7 linked regions of the Homo sapiens genome follow. The protein of the gene in region 1 purifies or fractionates together with the protein of each later gene. This does not show direct contact. Each region holds a gene or a part of one and is shown in the gene's direction. Other genes may lie near its edges.

Evidence for each region.
Region 2: the proteins of NRBF2 (region 1) and GALT purify together in Homo sapiens (affinity purification with mass spectrometry; 3 studies listed by BioGRID and IntAct, with this or other methods). This does not show direct contact.
Region 3: the proteins of NRBF2 (region 1) and CPVL purify together in Homo sapiens (affinity purification with mass spectrometry; one large-scale study listed by BioGRID and IntAct). This does not show direct contact.
Region 4: the proteins of NRBF2 (region 1) and SFRP2 purify together in Homo sapiens (co-immunoprecipitation; one large-scale study listed by IntAct). This does not show direct contact.
Region 5: the proteins of NRBF2 (region 1) and NAA25 purify together in Homo sapiens (affinity purification with mass spectrometry; one large-scale study listed by BioGRID and IntAct). This does not show direct contact.
Region 6: the proteins of NRBF2 (region 1) and PBLD purify together in Homo sapiens (affinity purification with mass spectrometry; one large-scale study listed by BioGRID and IntAct). This does not show direct contact.
Region 7: the proteins of NRBF2 (region 1) and PGK1 purify together in Homo sapiens (affinity purification with mass spectrometry; one large-scale study listed by BioGRID and IntAct). This does not show direct contact.

The regions. Positions count from the first base shown.
Region 1 is NC_000010.11:63,146,828-63,150,327, forward strand, and holds part of NRBF2 (nuclear receptor-binding factor 2), read left to right. Parts: intron 1-3,400; exon of another isoform or gene 3,401-3,500. UniProt on the Homo sapiens protein: May modulate transcriptional activation by target nuclear receptors. Can act as transcriptional activator (in vitro). Involved in starvation-induced autophagy probably by its association with PI3K complex I (PI3KC3-C1).
Region 2 is NC_000009.12:34,645,407-34,649,474, forward strand, and holds the start of GALT (galactose-1-phosphate uridylyltransferase), read left to right. Parts: upstream 1-1,268; 5' UTR 1,269-1,298; coding exon 1,299-1,380; intron 1,381-1,682; coding exon 1,683-1,852; intron 1,853-2,085; coding exon 2,086-2,161; intron 2,162-2,250; coding exon 2,251-2,299; intron 2,300-2,425; coding exon 2,426-2,555; intron 2,556-2,708; coding exon 2,709-2,765; intron 2,766-2,927; coding exon 2,928-3,050; intron 3,051-3,355; coding exon 3,356-3,488; intron 3,489-3,591; coding exon 3,592-3,675; intron 3,676-4,003; coding exon 4,004-4,068. UniProt on the Homo sapiens protein: Plays an important role in galactose metabolism.
Region 3 is NC_000007.14:29,136,538-29,140,037, reverse strand, and holds part of CPVL (probable serine carboxypeptidase CPVL isoform b precursor), read left to right. Parts: intron 1-3,500. UniProt on the Homo sapiens protein: May be involved in the digestion of phagocytosed particles in the lysosome, participation in an inflammatory protease cascade, and trimming of peptides for antigen presentation.
Region 4 is NC_000004.12:153,780,091-153,783,087, reverse strand, and holds the end of SFRP2 (secreted frizzled-related protein 2 precursor), read left to right. Parts: intron 1-1,332; coding exon 1,333-1,637; 3' UTR 1,638-2,497; downstream 2,498-2,997. UniProt on the Homo sapiens protein: Soluble frizzled-related proteins (sFRPS) function as modulators of Wnt signaling through direct interaction with Wnts. They have a role in regulating cell growth and differentiation in specific cell types.
Region 5 is NC_000012.12:112,074,284-112,077,783, reverse strand, and holds part of NAA25 (N-alpha-acetyltransferase 25, NatB auxiliary subunit), read left to right. Parts: intron 1-1,994; coding exon 1,995-2,106; intron 2,107-3,019; coding exon 3,020-3,109; intron 3,110-3,500. UniProt on the Homo sapiens protein: Non-catalytic subunit of the NatB complex which catalyzes acetylation of the N-terminal methionine residues of peptides beginning with Met-Asp, Met-Glu, Met-Asn and Met-Gln. May play a role in normal cell-cycle progression.
Region 6 is NC_000010.11:68,294,929-68,298,428, reverse strand, and holds part of PBLD (phenazine biosynthesis-like domain-containing protein), read left to right. Parts: intron 1-1,443; coding exon 1,444-1,543; intron 1,544-2,064; coding exon 2,065-2,163; intron 2,164-3,500.
Region 7 is NC_000023.11:78,114,248-78,117,747, forward strand, and holds part of PGK1 (phosphoglycerate kinase 1), read left to right. Parts: intron 1-3,064; coding exon 3,065-3,168; intron 3,169-3,500. UniProt on the Homo sapiens protein: Catalyzes one of the two ATP producing reactions in the glycolytic pathway via the reversible conversion of 1,3-diphosphoglycerate to 3-phosphoglycerate.

The DNA.
Region 1 (3,500 bases):
TTAGCTTTCATTTCAGTATGAATTTTAGAATTGTTAGCTTCTTATCAAAGACCTAATTTTACCCTAGTCAGTCAAGCAACCTAGCATATGTTGAATTCAGAAATAGATCTTGGGGGCCTGTTTTGCTTAGACCAGTTTCTGTTGGCTGAGTAACCAAAAAACTTTGGGTCCTCGTTAGTGTAGTGGTAAGTATAAAAATAAAAATAAAAAAATTTAAAAATCTTTGGGTAAAGGATGTTTTACTCATGCCTCATCCAAAATGAGTGCAAGTCACCTTTCTTAGGGCAAACCCTGAAGTCTTCTGCTGGCAGGCATGTTCCTTTCCCTCTAGGCCAGTATGATGATCAGAGCCATATTCTTTCTTGACAGAGGCTGCCCCTCCCTTGTTATTTTACTTGTGAAATACAGACTGCAAGGTGGGCAGTAGATTGGATAAGTCTTCTTACTACAGTGGTTTTTGCCTGGAAGTTGGTAATTTTCAGAGAAAATTAAAATTTTTTTTTTTTTTTGGAGATGGAGTCTTGCTCTGTCGCCCAGGCTGGAGTGCAGTGGCACCGTCTCAGCTCACTGCAACTTCCCGCCTCCTGGTTTCAAGTGGTTCTCCTGCCTCAGCCTCCCGAGTAGCTGGGACTACAGGTGTGTGCCACCACCCCCGGCTTGTATTTTTGTAGAGACAGGGTTTCTCCATGTTGGCCAGGCTGGTCTCGAACTCCTGACCCCATGATTGACCCGCCTTGGCCTCCCAAAGCGCTGGGATTACAGGCGTTAGCCACTGCTCTCAGCCTTTTTTTTTTTTTTTTTTAAGTTCTGGGGTACATGTGTAGAATGTGCATGTTTGTTACATAGGTATACACGTGCCATGGTGGTTTGCTGCACCCATCAACCTGTTGTCTACATTAGGTATTTCTCCTAATGCTATCCCTCCCCTAGCCTCCCACCCCCGCTTTTTTTAAAAAAGAAATAGTTTTGCCACTCAAGTGTACTGGAGTTATCTGCTGTAGGGCCAAGCATACAGTAGATATTCCATAAATCTTTGGGTGTTTTTATGGTGAGAGGGCTTTGTACAGTATTAAACATGTCAACTAGTGCTCTTTAAATCTTTCCTAAACCATATTTTGTTATGAATCAGATTGTTAAATCTGTAGTCACTACAAAGACGATGTACCATGTTTAACTATTTAAGAAAACCATGTTTTATATGGATTCCCTAGTGAAACAATACCTTATGTAACCCAAAATGGTCATGGTTACATATATATAACATATGTTAAGTGGAGTGAATCAGCATATGTTAGGCACTGAGCTATGGGATGTTATGAATATATAAAGAGAAGGAAATTTTAGTTGTAACCTAATCCTTGTCTTTGAAGACTTAAAACTGATGTTGGGCTTCAGTTAACCACTCCCCACTCCAGAAAAATACGGCAAACTGTTAGATCACATTAGCTTAAATTATAGAGACAGAACTTAATGTGATTAGTAAATCCCACTGAGTTGATTGGGTTTCCAACTTGTGTTTTAGAATGGAGTTGAAAGTTGACGTGGTTGAAATGAGCTCACTTTTTGAAATTGACTTGCATCTCTAGGGCTTATAACTGGTCTTGGAAGGTATGGGTTAGGTGTATTCTGAAAGGAAGCAACTTATTATTTGGAAATCATTTTAGAGATGTGACAAGGAAAGATCAACATCTGAGAAAGACTAATAGGAAGGAAAGGCTGAACTGAGAGAATTTAAGGGCAAACAGAGGGGACCTGGGTGTCCACCTGTCAAAGATCAGAGGAGATTCTGAGACTAAAAAACTTACCGTGAGATTACCTAGCTAAGGACTTTATAGCCTCTTTGTAGTGTTTGTATTGTAAATGTGCTGAAATAAGTTGCTTGATGTCTCTTGCCTTTTGAGGAAAGGTAGGATCTACTCTTGAGGTGGACAATGGCTGAATTAAATGAAACTGAGCATGTGAGCATTCATTTGCCAGATAAGCACATCCCTAAGTGAATTTCTCTTCTTTCATACACAACAAAAGAACAAAACCTGAAATAAGTTAATAGCCATTGGCAGTGCTTAGAACTCAAAGTGAGCATTTCAGAAGATGAGCAGGCCCCAGAGTACACAGTATTTGGATGGATTTGATGAATATTTTGTTTGAAAACAAATCTTAACCTAAGCCTTTTGAAACTGGTAACATGAAAATGATTCTATCCTTATTCAGAGGCAGTATATTGCTGCACTTTGTATGCGTTGGGACCAGTTTAACAGATTCCTGTTAGAAGAGTAATAGATGTTACTATTTTTTGGTTTTTGGTTTTTGTTTGAGACAGAGTCTTGCTCTGTTGCTCAGGGTGGAGTGCATGATCTCAGCTCACTGCAACCTCCGCCTCCCAGGCTCAAGTGATTCTTCTGCCTCAGCCTCCCAAGTAGCTGGGACTACAGGCATGCGCCATCACACTTGGCTGATTTTTGTATTTTTTGGTAGAGACAGGGTTTCTACCTTGGCCTCCCAAAGTGCTGGGATTACAGGCGTGAGCCACTGTGCCCGGCCCAATGTTGTTATTTTAAGATATTCTTCAGATTTCCTTAGTTCCTTTATTGTATCATTCGCTTAATATCTACTTTAAATTTTAGCCTCGTGTCATAATTAAAGGAAGTAGTTTAACGAGGATTGTTAGCAGTTTTTGAGATACTCTGTTTCTAAATTTCTGTGTTGCTATACTTTTGTTTCTATTGTGAGTCTGTGGAAGAAATCCATGAACATGGAATCAGATTTAAAATAATTTTTTTCTTTAAAAATAACTTTAAAATGCCCCACTTATAAGATTTAAATGTGGGGAATACTTTAAATGACAGTATGATTCTTGTTGAATTCTTTGTGCTTTGGGATATCCTTCTGTAACCTCCTTTGTCATATACAATTTCAAGGTTCTACAAAGGGTGGCATTTCAGTTGGCTAAAGCTTGGTTTTGTGAAAACTATTGTTTGTTAAGAAAGTGGATTTAAAGCAAACTATAGTTCAAACAGGGAGACAAATATATGCAGGCAAGATGGAAGAGATGTCTAAGAAAATGTGTCTACAGTGTATCAGAGCGGTAGCAGAGCAGTTAGAATGTCTCCACAGATTTTTTTTTTTTTTTTTGAAACGGAGTCTTGCTCTGTTACCCAGGCTGGAGTGCAGTGGCGTGATCTCGGCTCAGTGCAACCTCCACCTCATGGGTTCAAGCGATTCTCCTGCCTCAGCTTCCCTAGTAGCTGGGATTACAGGTGCCTGCCACCACGCCCAGCTAATTTTTGTATTTTTTTTTTTTTTTAGTAGAGACGGGGTTTCACCATGCTGGCCAGGCTGGTCTCGAACTCCCGACCTCAGGCGATCCACCAGCCTCAGCCTCCCAAAGTGCTAGGATTACAGGTGTGAGCCACCACACCCGGCCGTCTTCACAGATTTAAACATGAACAAAAGGAAAAGAAATAGTATGCAGCTGTACAGACATACTACAGGAAAAAAAG
Region 2 (4,068 bases), on another chromosome or scaffold:
CGCTTGAACCTGGGAGGTGGAGGTTGCAGTGAGCCAAGATCACGCCACTGCACTCCAGCCTGGGTGGCAGAGTGAGACTCTCTCTCAAACAAACAAACAAACAAAAGTACCAGGGGAGGAATTAATTTGAATTTTATCCTAGTGTTAGCCAATTGGTCCCATCCAAGGAAAATTTAGAAAAGGGAAGGGGATGTGTAAAGGAAACACTAGGCCCCACCTAGATGGTGGCTGGAGCTTCTGATAGTCCTGTACTCTCCACATTTTTAGACTTTCTTGTACTTTTTTTTTTTTTTTTGTGACGGAGTCTGCTCTGTCGCCAGGCTAGAGTGCATGGGCACAATCTCGGCTCACTGCAACCTCTGCCTCCTGGGTTCAAGTGATTCTCCTGCCTCAGCCTCCCGAGTAGGTGGGACTACAGGTGCACGCCACCAAGACCAGCTAATTTTTTTTTTTTTTTTTTTTACTAGAGACGGGGTTTCACCATGTTGGCCAGGATGGTCTCAATTTCTTGACCTTGTGATCCGCCTGCCTTGGTCTCCCAAAGTGTTGGGATTACAGGCGTGAGCCACCGAGCCCGGCCATTTTTAGATTTTTTTTTATAGCCCTTTTACCCCTCCCACTTCTTGTGCTGTCTTGGTGTGTGTATGAAAAAGAGAGAGAGAGAGAGAGGAAGGAGAGCAAGAGTGAGAGAAAAAGAGAATATGGTTACTTAGCCCTTTTTCCCAAATCTGTTTTTGCTTTTGGGGATAGGATATGGTTATGGTGAAGTACTCCACACAGACCCCACCAAGTTTGCCTCTCCTGCGCTACAGCCACTGAGCAGGTGACTGAGGCGCTGTTGATCCAGGGTCATATCCTTACTCGCCCTAGAATGTAAGCTCAGGCAGGGCAGAGGCCATGCCTGACATGTGCATCCCAATGCTTTACACAGCCTAGGTGCCTAGCACATGCTAGATGCTTGGTAAATATTTGCTGAATGAAAGATCAAATGAATGATTGCAGCAAGCAAGTCCTGTAGGCATCCTGGAGCCCAAGGATTCTGCAGTAGGCAGCTTTCACAGAGGTTCTTCCAGTGTAGTGGCTCTAGCTCTGGGTGAAGTAGGATCATCAATGTCGGCCCCCAGGGTTCACAGCTGTTCTGAGCCCCGCCCCCAGGTGGCAGGGCAGCCCAGTCAGTCAGTCACGTGCTGGCGGCTGGCCAATCATCGGGGGCGGCGCGGGGAGGGGTGGTGTGGACGGAGAAAGTGAAAGGTGAGGCACGGCCCTGCAGATTTTCCAGCGGATCCCCCGGTGGCCTCATGTCGCGCAGTGGAACCGATCCTCAGCAACGCCAGCAGGCGTCAGAGGCGGACGCCGCAGCAGCAACCTTCCGGGCAAACGGTAACTGCACCGCGGCAGGGACTCGCTGGGGCGCGGAGCCGAGCCCTCCCCTTCCTTAGGAAGCTTTCGTCCCCTCCGAAGGTTGGAACGCTCATCCCGAGCCAGACCGACAAGGCGTACAGTCTGCAGGCCTGTACGAGCAGCAGGCCAATTGGCGCTGGGAAAGTCCAATCCTGGGCCTCTAGCTCCTGAGCGGGACAGGGCCGAGAGGGCGCTCCCGAGCTTGGGCCTGCTGGTGGGTGAGACCCAGGAGAGAGGGAGCTAGAGAGCTCTGAGGACTGATCTTGACTGTCTGCCCCCAGACCATCAGCATATCCGCTACAACCCGCTGCAGGATGAGTGGGTGCTGGTGTCAGCTCACCGCATGAAGCGGCCCTGGCAGGGTCAAGTGGAGCCCCAGCTTCTGAAGACAGTGCCCCGCCATGACCCTCTCAACCCTCTGTGTCCTGGGGCCATCCGAGCCAACGGAGAGGTAAGCCTGTAGAGCCCTGCATCTGCAGGCTGGGCCACGGGGAGTAGTTCCCTCTTAGAACTGTCCTCCACCCACAGGGATAGTGAACCTCCTTCTGGGTCATATCCCACCAAGCTTTTTGGTCCCCTAGGGTGGGCCTTCCCTACTCCCTTGTAGCCTGTCCAGTCTTTGAAGCCCACCAGGTAACTGGTGGTATGGGGCAGTGAGTGCTTCTAGCCTATCCTTGTCGGTAGGTGAATCCCCAGTACGATAGCACCTTCCTGTTTGACAACGACTTCCCAGCTCTGCAGCCTGATGCCCCCAGTCCAGGTAACCTGGCTCCAACTGCTGCTGGGGAGGAGGGTGGCTAGACCTCTTGAGGGACTTCTGCTGCAGAGAGTGATACTCCTTTACCTCAGGACCCAGTGATCATCCCCTTTTCCAAGCAAAGTCTGCTCGAGGAGTCTGGTAACTATGGATTTCCCCTCTTACAACTTTCAAACCAGAGTTGGAGACTCAGCATTGGGGTTCGGCCCTGCCCGTAGCACAGCCAAGCCCTACCTCTCGGTTATCTTTTCTCCCGTCACCACCCAGTAAGGTCATGTGCTTCCACCCCTGGTCGGATGTAACGCTGCCACTCATGTCGGTCCCTGAGATCCGGGCTGTTGTTGATGCATGGGCCTCAGTCACAGAGGAGCTGGGTGCCCAGTACCCTTGGGTGCAGGTTTGTGAGGTCGCCCCTTCCCCTGGATGGGCAGGGAGGGGGTGATGAAGCTTTGGTTCTGGGGAGTAACATTTCTGTTTCCACAGGGTGTGGTCAGGAGGGAGTTGACTTGGTGTCTTTTGGCTAACAGAGCTCCGTATCCCTATCTGATAGATCTTTGAAAACAAAGGTGCCATGATGGGCTGTTCTAACCCCCACCCCCACTGCCAGGTAAGGGTGTCAGGGGCTCCAGTGGGTTTCTTGGCTGAGTCTGAGCCAGCACTGTGGACATGGGAACAGGATTAATGGATGGGACAGAGGAAATATGCCAATGATGTGGAGGCTTGGAGGTAAAGGACCTGCCTGTTCTTCTCTGCTTTTGCCCCTTGACAGGTATGGGCCAGCAGTTTCCTGCCAGATATTGCCCAGCGTGAGGAGCGATCTCAGCAGGCCTATAAGAGTCAGCATGGAGAGCCCCTGCTAATGGAGTACAGCCGCCAGGAGCTACTCAGGAAGGTGGGAGAGAGCCAAGCCCTGTGTCCCCAAGGAGTCCCTAACTTTCTTATCCCATGAGAGAGGTGTGTAAAGGAGAAAGCTAGAGGTGAACTAGTAGAGAGAGACTTGCTAGGAGGCCTTAGCAATAATCCAGTAATCTAAAGGAAAGATGATGGTGACTTAGACTCGGGTGGTTAGTGGTAGAGGTGGTGAGAAGACATCAGATCCTGGGCACATTCTTTTCTTCTGCTTCCCTTGCCTATTTGCTGACCACACTCCGGCTCCTATGTCACCTTGATGACTTCCTATCCATTCTGTCTTCCTAGGAACGTCTGGTCCTAACCAGTGAGCACTGGTTAGTACTGGTCCCCTTCTGGGCAACATGGCCCTACCAGACACTGCTGCTGCCCCGTCGGCATGTGCGGCGGCTACCTGAGCTGACCCCTGCTGAGCGTGATGGTCAGTCTCCCAAGTAGGATCCTGGGGCTAGGCACTGGATGGAGGTTGCTCCCAGTAGGGTCAGCATCTGGACCCCAGGCTGAGAGTCAGGCTCTGATTCCAGATCTAGCCTCCATCATGAAGAAGCTCTTGACCAAGTATGACAACCTCTTTGAGACGTCCTTTCCCTACTCCATGGGCTGGCATGGTGAGGCTTTTCAAGTACCTATATTTAGCCCCAACACCATTTCTGGGCTCCTGGGGCTCAGCCTAGTGAACTGCAACCTCAAAGGAGCAAGCCTTGAAACAGTTGCTGGGGGAAGTGGCCAGAGTAGAGATGCTGGGACTGAGGGTGGAGCAGCAAACTTGGTGAAACTACATCTCCAATGTGCTTTCTAATCTCCTGCCAGCTCTTCTCAAGCAGGGGATCCTGGGAGATGTAGTTTTCAGATACCTGGTTGGGTTTGGGAGTAGGTGCTAACCTGGATAACTGTAAAAGGGCTCTCTCTCCCCACTGTCTCTCTTCTTTCTGTCAGGGGCTCCCACAGGATCAGAGGCTGGGGCCAACTGGAACCATTGGCAGCTGCACGCTCATTACTAC
Region 3 (3,500 bases), on another chromosome or scaffold:
GAAATGTAGAACGTGAAATAAAGATGAAGCCATTCTGAGTCATGTGCAGACCGTGGGAAATATCTCCCTGTATTTGACAAAAGGGGAAATGGCAGCCATAGCTAATTCTGAAGATGAAAAGTGTTCCTGCCTGGGTTACTTGATGAAGAATATTATTAGCAATCAGCAAGTCAAGTGGAAATAATTTGTTTTGTTTTGTTTTCTCCCCTTCTAACTATTGGCATGTTGGTAGAATTAACTTGGCTGGCAGGAGAATGAACCGCCTGTGCCGTTGGGACACAGGAGATTTCTGAGCTGGCAGACTGCACACTCCATGTAAAACCATGACTCTTTCCACCATTCTTGTGTACACGTGTGCCTGAACATTGGTGTCTGCAAAATCCGAGACGTCTGTTTCAGAGAAAAATTGCTGGAAGCCACTGATTTAGAATTTTAATAGGATTTTTAAAAAATCTGTGCTTAAAAAACATGTAATTTAATCAGTGTTGTAGCCCCCCTGCCCCCCCAAGAATAGCCTTTCTTAGGTTTCTTAGGTTGTCTTACGAACACTGACAGAAATGTGTAGGTTCAGGGCACCTAGAGCAGATGTGGAAGTTCTTTCATTAAGGTAGCCTGCGTGAATCATCCCTGTGACTCAAAGCCTGAAGCAGTTTTAGCCTGATCTCCTTGGCTGCATTTTTAGAATCTTAGACATTCCAAGCTGAAAGGGATTTTGGGAATTATATAGTCCATCTAATCTCCAGAATTTACAAATGAAGGAACTGAAGTCCAAGGGGAGAAGTGAATTGGCTTGCCCAAGGATATACCTGTTGGCAAAGTGAAGGCTGGAACTTTTGACCTTGTACATTCAGGAATTGTGGCAGAGCCTTTCCTGCTCGTCTTAGAATGTAATGTACTATAGGGAGCCCGCAGCCATCCTCTACGGTCTGGCTTTATTGTCTCTTTTCTCCCTATTTTTTAGTCTCCTTCTACCTTTTCTCAGCACACCTTTCAAGTGGGATGGAAGTTGAAACCCACTCAGCAGAGAATATGAGAAATACATGTGTAATGACACAAAGTTAGGTGTGTTAGCATTATGTCCAGCAAAGGAGGACACATACCCAAAGGTTGGGAGAAGTGGGAAGAGGCCTCTGAAATATTTGGCCTTGTGCTGAATGAGTCGAAGGAGGGATCAGGGAAGAGGTACCCGCTGGATTAGCTGCTGCCAAGTGCCCGTGGCAGCTCAGGAACTTAGACTCTCAGCAGTCTCTGTTCAGGAGATGGGAGGGACAAAGCGCTATCATTGGTAAGAATACAGCAGTTGCTCAGAAAAAAGGACTGTCCATCATACTGCAGCTGCAGAGTGGCCTTGGGTATATAGAAACATTGTTAATGTTCTGTTGGGAGCATCTTAGACTGATTAGCAGCAGAGCTGATTTTCACTCCCAGGGATCTGGGTCTCTCTCTTTCTCGGTTAATGGCACCACTGTCCACCCACCCAGCCATCTAAGTCACATCTGGGATCATCCTAGATTCTTTGTTCTATTTCAACTCTAATATATAATCACAAGTTTCTTCCAGTTTTACTTTCTTCTTCTTCTTCTTATTATTATTATTTGGAGACGTAGTCTCGCTCTTTTGCCCAGGCTGGAGTGCAGCAGCGTGGTCTTGGATCACTGCAACCTCTGCCTCCGGTGTTCAAGTGATCCTCCCACCTCAGCCTCCTGAATAGCTGGGATTACAGGCACATACCACCAAGCCTGGCTAATTTTTGTATTTTTTTGTAGAGACAGGGTTTTGTCATGTTGGCCAGGCTGGTCTGGAACTCCTGACCTCTGGTGATCTTACCCACCTTGGCCTCCCAAAGTGCTGGGATTACAGGCGTGAGCCACTGCTCCCAGTCAACCTTCTAATTATTTTTAAGTCTGCCCTCTCCACGCTATTATTACTAGTTTCCAGCCCTAGTTCAAACTCCTGTCATCTTTATTCTAGATTATTGTGAAACATATTAACTGGCCTTCCTGCCTGCTGTCTTTCTGGCTTAAGTCCATCCTTACATTGATGTTCATAGTACTCTTTTCAAATTATCAAGCCCTTCAGTAGTTCCTAGTCACTAGAGGATAAAGATTCTTAGCATATCTAGAAAACTCTCCCTGATCAGCTCTCTACTGACTTCTCTAGATTCCATCCTATTTCTCCACTTCCTACTTATGCTTTTCTCCTGCCTCTGTATTGGTTATCTATTGCTGCATAACAAATTTTTAAATGCTATAAATTCTATGACCTCCCAAAATAGTGATATAGGCGTTAAGAAGAAATTATTTGGGCAGATAGTGAGAGTACAGGAGTCCTCGGTAAGGTTTTCCTTTTAATGAAAAGCAGACCCCAAATCATTTTCTTTTCTAACAAAGAGCAGCCTGCCTATAAAATTGAGCTACACACATAGACAAGTAAGCTGGAAGCTTGCACAGGTGAATGCCGGCAGTTGTGCCAATAGGAAAAGGCTACCTGGGCTAGGCATGTTCAAAATGGCAGCTCCGTCTTCCCTTTTCCTTTCCAACCATGTGTACAGTAGGGAACAGACAGTAATGCTGGCCAAGTGGAAAGCCCATTTGCTTAATAAGGTTAGGGTGAGGTGGCCAGCTTCCCTGCATGCTATGTAAATGTCACACCTGGTCCAGCCAATCTGTGGGCCAATCTTTGTCTATATAAATCAGACACCACCTCCTCAAGCCTGTCTATAAAATCTGGTGCACTCCACGGAGGGCCAGATTTCCCATTCAGATGCCCCTCTCTTGCAAGAGAGAGAAGTGTTCTCCTTTCTCTTTCTTTTGCCTACTAAACCTCTGCTCCTAAACTCACTCCTTGTGCGTGTCCATGTCCTTAATCTTGGCATGAGATGGCGAACCCCAGGTATTTACCCCAGACAGTGATGCCACCTCAATAGGAGAGACAGCAGCACATGAGGGAAGTATAGAGGGATTCATTTAATTAGGAGTTAAAGTCAAGGTTGGAAACTAGTTTGGAGGTTTGCAGTAGTCCAGGCAAGTCACAATAAAGAACTGGATTAGGCCATGAGAGTAGATTTAGAGAGGTGAAGGTGAATTTGAAGAACATCTAGGAGATTCAGTTGGTGATTGATTGGCTGTGGGAATGCAGGGCCAGAGAAAAATGGATAAATAAAGAATACATCCTGGATTTCTGGCTTTAGTACTTGAGTTGATGGGAGTATTTCCAACCAAGATGAAAAATAGGGAAGTAAGGACAAGTTTAGGGAAGGAGATAATAAGTTTAGTTTTTGAGTTCTTCTTAACTACTTTTGATTTTTGTCAATATAATAAAAGTAATGTTATAATTCTCATGATAAAAAATTTTAGTCTTCTTCTCCCCACCTCCCCATCCTTCTCTTATCTCTGAGACCTCCTCTCATACTTTTACCTGTCTGTTCTAGCCTTTAATTCCAAATTTCCAAGTAATCTGCCTAATCTGTTTCTTGATTTATTGGTTTTAGGGTTACACCT
Region 4 (2,997 bases), on another chromosome or scaffold:
GTCATAGCATTTTTGATTTACCTGCTAGAGATTCTATAATTTCCTGGTTGACTAGAAAGCCATACTCAGTCAAATTCCCATTCTGATATTTAAAAAAAAAAAAAAGAAAATCTCAAAAACAGTTGTACGCAACACAGAAAAATCTTCCTCTATTACTAATTTAAACATAGATTAAACTCCATCAAAGTCAGGAAGTCATACTTACACATCATCTATACAGAATAGCTGTCAGGGGCACACAGGGTCTTAGGACACATTGCAGCTGGGCAAGTTTATGCTGCAACCACTACAAAAACATGGACATTGCCTCAAGACACCACAGTGGTATTACAGGAGGAGGTTTGGCAACTGGAGTTCTAGCAAACAACCTAAACTGGGTGACCTCATGCAAGTCACTAAACTTCTCTGGATTTAAGATTCTTTGTGTATTAACAAGCAATTTTAATGGGATGATCCCTTCTAACCTTAAAATTCTATTCTTTTCCTGCTTTCATGGAGTCTTGAAATTTAATTCCAGCATACACGTTTGTAGGGCTTTCTTTCCCAGAGCATACTGTTCATGACTATAAAACGTGTCCTTTATAGTAAACCACTTACTTTTGGTCTTCGCATTCTAACGAGTCTACATATACATTTTGGAAACAGTACATATATGATCCGTAAACGCCTTGGCCTTGGACTGGCAAATGAGAGCATATAAGGATGAGGTCTTCAGAAAAACACTTTTATGACTAACCACGTTGTGCTGTTAAAAAGAGACTTGCATATTGTTTCTCCTGCTTTACCAAATCAAATGCAGCTGTAAGATCAATTCTCCTTCCCTGTAATCTGATCTTTAGAAAACAATGATTGCGTGACACAGTTTCCTTACAGGTTTGTCCAAAAACCTCTTGCATAATAAATTGAGTTTAAACTTTACGGCCACAGAGGGATCATATTTCACCTAAAAGTCAGGCATTTCTTTTCATGCTTAAGTTTCCAACAGAGGAAGTCATTTGTTGGAGAGAGCACACACCACATGCAACTTTCTTACAAACACAAGGGTGAGTGAGGAAAGGAGAAGAAAAGTTAATTGAGTCCCGCAAAGAGAGAGTTTTGAAAAAATGGCTGATTGGAAACCAAGTGCCTGGCAAATGCTTTGAGGCTTTAGCAGTGGAGCCACCTGCTGCCCCTAGCTCCCAACCCCCGATCTGCAGCCTCTGAGGGTCCCATTAGCTCTAGGAAGCCTCTCTTTCCTCATCCAGGCCAAGTCACACGAGTTGGCAGAATGGGGGGAGGTATACTGTATTCCCTCATTATAACTGGCATGACTCTTTCTGCCCTCCCTCATAGCACTGAAAATAAAAGTGAAGGAGATAACCTACATCAACCGAGATACCAAAATCATCCTGGAGACCAAGAGCAAGACCATTTACAAGCTGAACGGTGTGTCCGAAAGGGACCTGAAGAAATCGGTGCTGTGGCTCAAAGACAGCTTGCAGTGCACCTGTGAGGAGATGAACGACATCAACGCGCCCTATCTGGTCATGGGACAGAAACAGGGTGGGGAGCTGGTGATCACCTCGGTGAAGCGGTGGCAGAAGGGGCAGAGAGAGTTCAAGCGCATCTCCCGCAGCATCCGCAAGCTGCAGTGCTAGTCCCGGCATCCTGATGGCTCCGACAGGCCTGCTCCAGAGCACGGCTGACCATTTCTGCTCCGGGATCTCAGCTCCCGTTCCCCAAGCACACTCCTAGCTGCTCCAGTCTCAGCCTGGGCAGCTTCCCCCTGCCTTTTGCACGTTTGCATCCCCAGCATTTCCTGAGTTATAAGGCCACAGGAGTGGATAGCTGTTTTCACCTAAAGGAAAAGCCCACCCGAATCTTGTAGAAATATTCAAACTAATAAAATCATGAATATTTTTATGAAGTTTAAAAATAGCTCACTTTAAAGCTAGTTTTGAATAGGTGCAACTGTGACTTGGGTCTGGTTGGTTGTTGTTTGTTGTTTTGAGTCAGCTGATTTTCACTTCCCACTGAGGTTGTCATAACATGCAAATTGCTTCAATTTTCTCTGTGGCCCAAACTTGTGGGTCACAAACCCTGTTGAGATAAAGCTGGCTGTTATCTCAACATCTTCATCAGCTCCAGACTGAGACTCAGTGTCTAAGTCTTACAACAATTCATCATTTTATACCTTCAATGGGAACTTAAACTGTTACATGTATCACATTCCAGCTACAATACTTCCATTTATTAGAAGCACATTAACCATTTCTATAGCATGATTTCTTCAAGTAAAAGGCAAAAGATATAAATTTTATAATTGACTTGAGTACTTTAAGCCTTGTTTAAAACATTTCTTACTTAACTTTTGCAAATTAAACCCATTGTAGCTTACCTGTAATATACATAGTAGTTTACCTTTAAAAGTTGTAAAAATATTGCTTTAACCAACACTGTAAATATTTCAGATAAACATTATATTCTTGTATATAAACTTTACATCCTGTTTTACCTATTCTTTGTCTTCTGTCTTGTCTTCTTAGTAAAAGGAACTGGGAATGGAGCTATGTATGGGTGGTCACTTCCTTCCATGAGCCCAGCCCTCCAGCAGTTTAAAGTGATCTACTTCTCAAGTGACTCAGAAAGTGTCTCCCCCTCCACCACCATGCCCCACATCTCACAGATTTCACCACTTTCACCCTGTGGAAGCAGCGACTTGCAGCCTCTAGAAAGGGGTTGCCTTCTTTTGACCCTTCTGAGCAGTCCAGCTGCAGCTATGTGGAAACATTACCCTAAACTTAAGGTTTATGAGCTTTACAGTTGTGCTTTTCATTTCCTGAGATTTTTCATACCGAAAAAGAATCACCACTGCAAAAATGTTAATTCCTTCCCCGACTCAAATCTAACCCTCAGATAGAGAGAGCCATGATTTGGAGAGTATCCACTGGAATGCAAGGAGGAGGAAGGGGATGGTGAAAACTTGAACTAGGGTAAAAAAGGAGAGACAGACATCTG
Region 5 (3,500 bases), on another chromosome or scaffold:
TAAATTAATTAATGCCCCTCTAGTCAGGATTTGTACTCTGTAGATACCGCAAACATTCCTTCTTTATTTGTATGTCTGTCTTATGAAGGCATTTGAGTTTGTGACCTCTGCTGTGCATACTCTTATACCCATACTTTATTTTTATTATTTATTTATTTATTTTAAAGAGATGAGGTCTCACTGTTTTGCCCAGGCTGGACTTGAACTCCTGGGCTCAAGTGATTCTCCCATCTCAGCCTCCCAAGTAGCTAGGACGACGGGCACACACCACCACACTGGGCTCCATTATTTCTTTCTTTCTTTTTTTTTTTGGAGACAGAGTCTCACTCTGTGGCCAGGCTAGAGTGCAGTGGTGCGATCTCGGCTCACTGCAACCTCTGCCTCCTGGGTTCAAGTGATTCTCCTGCCTCAGCCTCGTGAGTAGCTGGGACTACAGGCACACACCACCACGCCCAGCTAATTTTTGTATTTTTAGTAGAGACGGGGTTTCAACATGTTGGCCAGGCTGGTTTCAAACTCCTAACCTCAAGTGATCTGCCTGCCTCTGCCTCCCAAAGTGCTGGGATTACAGGTGTGAGCCACCACGCCTGGCCTCCATTATTTTATTATTATTATTATTATTTTAACTAAATAGTATTTCCTAGAGATAAAGTTCACTACCTCACTCCTTTAATAACTGTCCAGTGTTCCACAGTGTGAATGTAGAAATTTACTTAACCAGTTTTTGATGGATATTTAGGCTACTCACAAGAAACTTCTTGTTTTTTTTTGTTGTTGTTGTTGTTTTTGAGACAGGGCCTTGCTCTGTTAGCCAGGCTAGAATGCAGTGGCATCATCACAGCTCACTGCAGCCTTGATCTCCTGGGTTTAAGTTATCCTCTCACCACAGCCTCCTAAATAGTTAGGACTCCAGGCGTATGCCATCAAACCTGGCTAATTTTTATATTTTTTGTAGAGGTGGGGTCTCAATATGTTGCCCAGGCTGGTCTCGAACTCCTGGTCTCAAGCGATCTGCCTGCTTCAGCCTCCCAAAGTGCTGGGATTACTACAGGTGTGACCTGTCAGGCCTGGCCCTTTTTTTTTTTTAAACTACATTATAGCTCTATGGATAGTAAAAAGTTAGATTCTCAACAGGAAATTCATAATGTAATTTTTGGTATCCTTAATCTGCTAAACAGTTGGGCAAATCTAATTTGGTCAGAACTATCATCCTAGTTTTTTTGTTTTCAGTTGTTTGGAAAGATTTGATTCCTCTCCACTCTTTTTTGTCTTCTTCCAACATCTCATCTTTCTTAGCTCATGTCAGCTCAGTCCTCTTTGATGTTTTGGAACTGTATGGATGGGCAGCTTGTCTATGGACTAAATTTACTAGTCCCTAGATGCTGTTGGGATTTTATAAGTATATCCCATGTACTATTAATAGATGTTCAACCCAATACATTGTGAAACCTATCCTTTTACAAAGAAAATGATTATAAAAATTTACTGTCAGTAATGTACTTTTTTCTTTGAAGTAAAATAATCTTTAATAAGATAGTAGTAGTTTGTATGTAATAGTGGTCCCATTTTCTAAGAGAGTGAATAAGAAAATGTGACATTTAGGCCGGGCCCGGTAGCTCACAGCTGTAATCCCAGCACTCTGGGAGGCTGGGATGGGTGGATCACCTGAGGTCAGGAGTTTAAGACCAGCCTGGCCAACATGGTGAAATCCTGTCTCTACTAAAAATACAAAAATTAGCCAGGCGTGGTGGCAGATGCCTGTAATCCCAGCTACTTGGGAGGCTGAGACAGGAGAATCGCTTGAATCCAGGAGGTGGAGGTTGCAGTGAGCCAAGATCGTGCCATTGCACTCCAGCCTGGGTGACAAGAGTGAAACTCCATCTCAAAAAAAAAGAAAAGAAAATGTGACATTTTCCTTCTTGTGGTTGGACTCTATTCTGGTTATTGAGCAGAAATGAAACCAGCTTACCAACTTTTATAACTTTTGATTTTAGAGAAGTTGACAAGTGAGATTCAGAGTCGGGAAAATAAATGCATGGCTATGTACAAGAAGCTGAGCAGGTGGCCAGAGTGCAATGCCCTTTCCCGGCGCCTCTTACTAAAAAAGTGAGTAAAAGCTTTCTTTTGTACCATTTGACTGTAGTGAGGCTTTAAGACCTCACTATTGATTTTCTTGGTGTCTGTGTTTTGAAGTTTCTGGGCATAAAGTCTTCTTATAGTAGTTGTGTCCTGCATGTTTCTAAAAGTTTTTAAGGAGCCTTCATCTTTCAGTAGAGTATTATAATGGTACTTGTAGGCTGGGCATGGTGGCTCATGCCTATGATCCCAGCACTTTGAGAGGCCAAGGTGGGCAGATCACTTGAGGTCAGGAGTTTGAGACCAGCCTGGCCAACATGGCGAAACCCTGTCTTTACTGAAAATACAAAAATTAGCTAGTTGTGGTGGTGCGTGCCTGTAGTCCCAGCCCCTCGGGAAGCTGAGGCACAAGAATCGCTTGAACCTGGGAGGCAGAGGTTGCAGTGAGCTGAGATCATGCCACTGCACTCCAGCCTGGGTGACAACAATGAGACTCCATCTCAAAAAAAAAAAAAAGATACTTGTGCCACCATGGTGCTGAATTCTAGTTAGGGCTTAAGAATGAACACTGAAAATCATTAATTTCTCAAATTCAGTATTCCCCTAAAAGAGAGAGGCTTCATTCTTTGCTACAACACTTCTCTCCCCTTCCCTCTATTTTGGAAGTGCTTATGTGGGGACTTTTCTGTTATGAATATTAGTTTTCTAGACCTGGTCATTTTATTGAAGGAAAGAGTAGTTTACTACTCTTTACAAATACAAAGTAGTATTACTTTGAAAATGCCCTTTTAGATTTGCAAAGGAAACATGGAGTGGGTGGGGGTAAGCCAACCTACTACATACTAAAATATAACTTACAAAATAAATTGAATATCATGGTTCCTAAGGAAGATCTGTCACAACTTGGGTTTAATCCTGTGTGCATCATTCAATCTGATTTTAGCTCAGATGACTGGCAGTTCTATCTGACTTATTTCGATTCTGTCTTTCGACTGATTGAAGAGGCCTGGAGTCCTCCTGCTGAAGGTGAACAGTAAGTTGTCTTCTTTCCTGAATTATAACAGCACTTTTTAATATAGTGTAGTGAAAGGATTTCATTATAAGCCAATTGAATTCTCTTTTTCTGTCTCAATAAAGTATTCCTTTCAAAGTAAGACATTTTTTCATATTTTTTAAAGTATAAAATACACAAGTTCATTCTAAAAATCATGTTAGTGCCAAAATATGTGGTGTGCTAATTTCCACTTATCCTACCATTCCAAAAATAACTCTTGTTAATAGTTTGGTGCCTTTCCGTGAGATTTATTTCCATCTTTATGCTAAGATAATTTTTCTTTTTCTCCTTTTTTTTTTTTTTTTTTTTTTTGAGATGGAGTTTGGCTCTTGTCACCCAGGCTGGAGTGCAATGGCACGATCTTGGCTCA
Region 6 (3,500 bases), 5.1 Mb from region 1:
TCTCCAACTCCAGGGTTCAAGCGATCCACTCTCCTTGGCCTCCCAAAGTGCTGGCATTATAGGCATGAGCCTCCCAAAGTGCTGGGATTATAGGCATGTGCCTGGCCAGTTGTTACTATTGTCCACATTTGCAAAGCCCTCATTCTTTTTCTTTTTTCTTTTCTTTTTTGTTTTTGAGACAGGATCTTGCTCTGTCGCCCAGGCTGGAGTGCAGTGGCACAATCATGGCTCACTGCAGCCTTGACTTCTGGGCTCAAGAGATCCTCCTACCTCCGCCTCCCGTATAGTCTGGACCATAAGCAAGCACCACCATGCCTGGCTAAATTTTTTATTTTTATTTTTTATTGAGACTGGGGGGTGGTCTTGAACTCCTGGTCTCAAGCAATCTTCCTGCCTTGGCCTCCCAAAATGCTAGGATTACAGGCATAAGCCACCATGCCCAGCTAAAGCCCTTACTCTTTTTTTTTTTATTTAAATCTTTTTTTACAGAGACAGAGTCTTACTATGTTACCCAGGCTGGTCTTGAACTCCTGGACTCAAGCTGTCCTCCCGCCTCAGCCTCCCAAAGTGCTGGGATTACAGGCGTGAGCCACCATGCCTAACTAAGCTCTCATTCTTAATCACTGTACTGTTTATTAGGTATATTGTGGTCTTAGGATATTATATGATCTCTCCGTTTAATTTCTTCATTTGTAAGGGTATAAAAATATTTACATTGAGGGTTTTAAAAATGAGATTAAGTGAAATAATGTACTTATTTTTTCAACAAATGTTTACTGATCTCCTACTGTGCTGGGATGAATACCAGGCATTGTTCCAGGTCCCGGCAAAGCAAGACAGCACAGTCCATACCCCAACAGAACTTAGAATCAGAGGTGGCGAGGCCAGACAGTAAAGGGCACACCAGGCAATTTCAGGACATCTAAGCACTGGAGAGGAGACAACACCTTTAGACACAGTGGTCTGGGAAGGCTTACTGGAGGAGGTGACCCCTGGCCTGAAGCCCTTCCCATGAAAGAGAGTGAACCATGCAAAGACAGGGGAGGAGTGGTCCAGCCTGCCCAGAGTGAGTGCTGAACCTCGCTTTCACCAGCAAAGCAAAGGAGATTGGGGTACTTCCTTGTGTGGAGATTGTTTTTAGAAGACAGCACACTCTGTCAGCTAGACTAGATCTTACTGTGACAAAAGACAGGCCAGGCCAGCCAGTTTTTCACAGTCTATTCCAGCTTGCACATTTATAACCCTTCTTCACAGGGCACTGCAAGCATGGGTTTCTGAGAACCAATCTTTATAAAAGTGCCTTGAATTCCTTGGTAATTATTTCCTTTTAAGCGTGTAACTCTTATTATTGCTAAACTGCTTTTTAAGTTAATGGTAGTTGTTGTCCAAAGGAAGTCTGATCTGTGTTTTTGAAACCTCAATGATCGTCTGTTTCTAATTAAGGAATTGGATGAAGACATGCATCAGAAAATTGCAAGGGAGATGAACCTCTCTGAAACTGCTTTTATCCGAAAACTGCACCCGACAGACAACTTTGCACAAAGTAAATATGCATTTTTTTTTTTTAAGAACTGTTCTGTCGCACGGGCTGGAGTGCAGTGGCATGATCTTGACTCACTGCAACCTCCGCCTCCTGCGTTCAAGCAATTATTGTGCCTCAGCCTCCCGAAGTGCTGGCATTATAGGTGTGAGCCACCACACCTGGCCTAAATATGCACTTTAAAATAATTCTTGAATGACATCAGAAATTATTTTTTAGGTGGGGGAATGATCTTTAAGGAAAATGCCCCCTTATTATTTGCATGCAGATAGTAGATAGAGCGGGAGATTCTGATTTGGTTTCGGTTCATTTGGGGAAGGGGGTTTTGGTGAATCTGAATGTTTCCATTCCAGATCTAGCACTGGGGAGCCCTAGGATGCTTGCCTAGCCATCATTCCTCCTTTTACAACATGTTTTGGCTACTCATCATGCTAGAGAACTATATAGGAAAGAAGAAAATGAGAAATCTGTGACCTGCTTGCATGGGAATGATCTCATCTCTCTTTGGCTTTTCCTATCCTCAGGTTCCTGCTTTGGACTGAGATGGTTTACACCAGCGAGTGAGGTCCCACTCTGTGGCCATGCCACCCTGGCTTCTGCAGCTGTGCTGTTTCACAAAATAAGTAATGTGATTTTCTTTAATGAATCTAACACTTAGCAAATGGCTTTTTTTTTTTTAAGTTCTCACACACACTTTTTCTGATGGTCCAAAGTGACTGGTATAAAGACTCTGCAGAGTTTACTTCATGCTATTCATAATGCAGAAACAAAACCAGCGACCTTCAATAGCACTTTGGCCTTTCTGAGTATGTGCCCAGCATCATTGGAAAGCTGCGATCAGAATGCTATTTTATTTTATTTTTATTTTATTTTACTTTCTGGTCTACAAAGAATTTGACAACCATTTTATTTTATTTTATTATTTTTTGAGACAGAGTCTCACTGTGTTGCCCAGGCTGGAGAGCAATGGCACGATCTTGACTCACTGCAACCTCCGCCTCTCTCCACCTCCTGGGTTCAAGCGATTCTCCTGCCTTAGCCTCCTGAGTAGCAGGATTACAGGCGCCCACCACCACACCCAGCTAATTTTTGTATTTTTAGTAGAGATGGGGTTTTACCATGTTGGCCAGGCTGGTGTCAAACTCCTGGCCTCCAGTGATCCATCTGCATCGGCCTCCCAAAGTGCTGGGATTATAGGCGTGAGGCACCATGCTTGGCCTCATTTTAAACTGGAGATCTCTGGTCTTTGTGAAGCTTGCATGGGCAGAATTGTCATCTCATACGATATGAGATTGGAGATCAACAGGAACATTTCACTCCAATTATTTCCGCTCCCACATTGAAATTCATTTCACAATAAGAGATTCTTCAATAAACATTTTTTTTTTTTTTTTCTGAGATGGGGCCTGGCTCGGTTGACCAGACTGGAGTGCAGAGGCAGGATATCAGTTCACTGCAACCTCTGACTCCTGGGCTCAAGCCATCCTCCCACTTCAACCTCCAAAGTAGCTGAGACCCCAGGTGCACACCACCACACCTGGCTAATTTTTGTATTTTTGTTAGAGACAGGGTTTTGCTATGTTGCCCAGGCTGGTCTCAAATTCCTGAGCTCAAGTGGTCTGCCCACCTTGGCCTCCCAAAGTGCTGGGATTACAGGCATGAGCCACCACGCCCGGCCAATAAGAGCTTCTTTGCTCTAAATTTGAAGATTCCTGGGCCCCCACTGTATACATTCACCTTAAAAGGAGTTGCAGCACCTTAATTCTGCCAGTTTCTATCTTAGCTGCATTTAGTTTAATGGACAAAGATCAGGGCCTTGTGGGGATGGGACAGAGAAGAGATTCCTGGGAAATGCCCTAAAACAGGAGATGGAAGCAGCCACAAACAAGCATAGACAGCAAACGGAAATGGAAACAAGGAAAGAAACAGGATGATAGGACAGAATGTCACTGTGGGGGAT
Region 7 (3,500 bases), on another chromosome or scaffold:
TTAACTTAGACACCTTTTATTGAAGCATACAATGCCGACACAGCTTGATGGGTTATCTCAAAGTAAACACACTTGTGTAACCACCACCCAGGTCAAGGAATAGAATATTACCAGCATCCCAGAAGCCCTCCTTCATGTTCAGGTGGTGTTTAAATATGTTTGAAAAATATGTGAACACCTTTGAGGTGAAAGAGTATTCAGTGAATATGATGGTCATGATGATGTCACCTTGGATTTAAGGCATTTTCTTAAGATGTGTAAAGTATGTTCCTTTAAATCTCTCTTTAAGATAGAGGTACAGGTATCGACTTATTTCATAAAGAAACTAAGTCTCAAAAAAAAAAAAACTTAAGTTTCTGAAAGGCAGTCATACGATTAAAGTTAGAGGCAGTGGTGCTGTTGGTCTTTAGAGCTCAGCCCATTCAATCAGCAAACTTTTTCTATAAATGGCCAGATAGTTAATATTTTAGGCTTTCTGTGTTGTGCAGTCACTTCCATCTGCATATAGTCTCTGTTGGAACTACTCACCTCTGCCGATGTTGTGCAAAAGCAGCCATAGATAACTCACCAAACAGATTACTGTGAACTGACAACCAGAATTCAAATATTCAATGATAAAACTGGCTCTTTGCAGATGATTTTGAATTTGCCCATTGACTAGAAAGGAAGCTGAAGGCATTTTTTAGTACTTTCCACTATTCTGGTCTTTAGTATCTCGGAGAACAAGATGCTCTGAGTCTAGTGTCTCAGTCTCCTTTGGCTTCTCACATTTATTAAGGTCATTGGGAGTGCCTGCTTTCAAGCAGTTTCTTTTTTTAGCACCAAAGATGCTGGTCTTGCCTTATCCTGCTTTTGGCATGGTCTTGCTGCAGTATTAGGAGTCAAATGCTGACCTAAAATTTGGTGTCCTTTTAATCTGGAACTCATGATGCATGAACTCTAGGGCTTAGAAGTGGCAGGAGGCAAAGGGCATATTGAAGCAAAACTTTTTATTTAGGAAATGATGAGCTGACTATGTAGTCTATGACTTTTTTAGTAAACTGACTTGACATTCACTATCTAATGGCTTTTAATACCTGAAATTTCAGGAGTCAGTCCCAAGTTCAAAATGGATTAAAAAAACAGTGAGGCTGGGTGCGGTGCCTCATGCCTGTAATCCCAGCGCTTTGGGAGGCCGAGGTGGGTGGATCACAAGGTCAGGAGTTCGAGACCTGCCTGGCCAACATGGTGAAACCCTGTTTCTACTAAAAATACAAAAAAGTCGGGCATGGTGGCAAGTGCCTGTAATTCCAGCTACTCCGGAGGCTGAGGCAGGAGAATTGCTTGAACCCAGGATGTGGAGGTTGCAGTGAGCCAAGTTTGCAGCACTGCATTCCAGCCTGGGCAACAGAGCAAGACTCTGTCTCAAAAAAACCACAAAAACAAAGTGAGGATATGAGGACATAAACATTTTCCCTTTATCCAAAGTGCCCACATTGATCTTTTAAGGGCCTTCTCTTTCTTCTAGTTATTTGCAGATCAGTAAATGAGAAATGGGTTCTGATTGATATTATTTCCATGGCACCTTTTTTCATGAAGAGCTTTCAATTTACCCTGTTTTTCCTTAAATATCTTTTTAAAGAGACAGGGTCTTGTTCTGTTGCCCATGGTGGAGTGCAGTGGCATGACATTAATTATTGCAGCCTCAAACTTGAGGGCTGAAGTGATCCTCCTGCCTCATCCTTGTAGGGAGCTAGGACTACAGGCACATACCACCATGTCCAACTGACCTTTACTTTTTTTTTTTTTTCCTGGTAGAGACGGGGTCTTGCTATGTTGCCCAGGCTCATCTCGAACTCCTGGGCTTAAGTGATCCTCCCATATTGGCCTCCCAAAGTGTTGGGATTATAGGTGTGAGCTACTGCCCCTGGCCTCCTTAAATAGTTCGTAAATGGAGGGGTTATTATGCCTTTTTGATAGAAGGGAAAATTTCAGAGCAACTTCCCAAAGGTGACACAATGAATTAGTGTCAGAGCTGGACATAGAACTCAGGTCTCCTTACATTTGAGCATTGTTATCATTACTACATGTGTCATCTTCCAATCACTAGTGGCAGATGTTATTGTAGTCTACAGAGCTTATGGGAGTGCCACAATCTTCAATTTTAGCATTAGTGCCTCTGCAATTCTTTGGATCTTTAGGGAAAAGCCCCATTTTTTATGGCAGTCCCCTTCACCTCCTTGATACATAGGAGCATAGGAGTGGGCAGTGACTTAAAATGAACATCTGCTTTGTGCTATGTACTCTTCTGTGTCCTGTCCCCTTTCATCTGGCTTGCTTCCTGTGCCTCTTTGCTTAATCTCCTGCCAGAGACTCTCTGGTTTGCTTATCCTCCCATCTTGCTTTCTGTCCCCTTTGGGGTATGCCTTGATGGCAAGCTGACATTTTAAAGCTCTATGTTTAACTTCTACATTTTCTTCCTCTCTTTTTGTAGAAGTATATTTCTTGTTTTCTCAGATGCCTAGCTTCCAGAGAAGGTCATAAAATACCTTTTTGTCAATGTGAAGTGTTTCTGAGGTTCTTTTCTGTTGTCATGTTTCCATCTGCCTTCTCTGTCCCAGCTTGCCCTTGTTGCTTTTATGAGGAATATGTGTGAGAGCCCCTTGCACTTCGCAGAAAGGCCTTGGTAGCCAGCAGCTTGAGTCAAGTATGATACTATCACAAGGAGAATGTTTAAAATGAGGAACTAAGTCAAGGAGAGGGAAGGATAATCAGAACCTTGAGCTGAAGGCTGGGGAGAGGCTAGTGGGGTGTGGTTAACTTCATGTGATTAGAGGTAAAGCCATCGTTCAGGAATATTAGGTTTGCAATTTGAGGGAAGTTAAGGGAGAGCAGAAACATGCAGAAATGACCAAAGTATCTGGAATATTTGGAAGAAAGAACACATCCTACTGCTGGTTGTAAAAAATCGCTGTCCCACCTACTCAGGGTCTTTAGAGATGTTCAAGAGGACTCTTGGTGTATGAAATGCTTTTATAGTTGTCTTTGGAGCCATCACATTTTCTGTTTTTGTTTTTCTCTATAGGTTAAAGCCGAGCCAGCCAAAATAGAAGCTTTCCGAGCTTCACTTTCCAAGCTAGGGGATGTCTATGTCAATGATGCTTTTGGCACTGCTCACAGAGCCCACAGGTACCAAGAACCTTGTAGACTACCACACTGAGAACAGTATTCCTATTTACTTGAGTAGCCCAAGCTCTGGGTTGTTTTTGGAGAGTTTTGTATTATACTGTAATCCTTTCAGCTTCTCTAATTGGAACTGCCACTATGGCTCTTGTTGAGTAGCTCTCATCCAAAGAGGAAATAAAGGTAAAAAAATGTTGGTAATTGTAGGGCTTTTTGTGGAGTTTCAGGAAGAGGTTGCTCTTTCTCACCTTAGATATTTTGTACAGAGTTATCCTTTTATGAACGTTATAAGATCAGACTCTCATGCTGTCAGTAGGAAGCAAATTGAGGAATCCTCT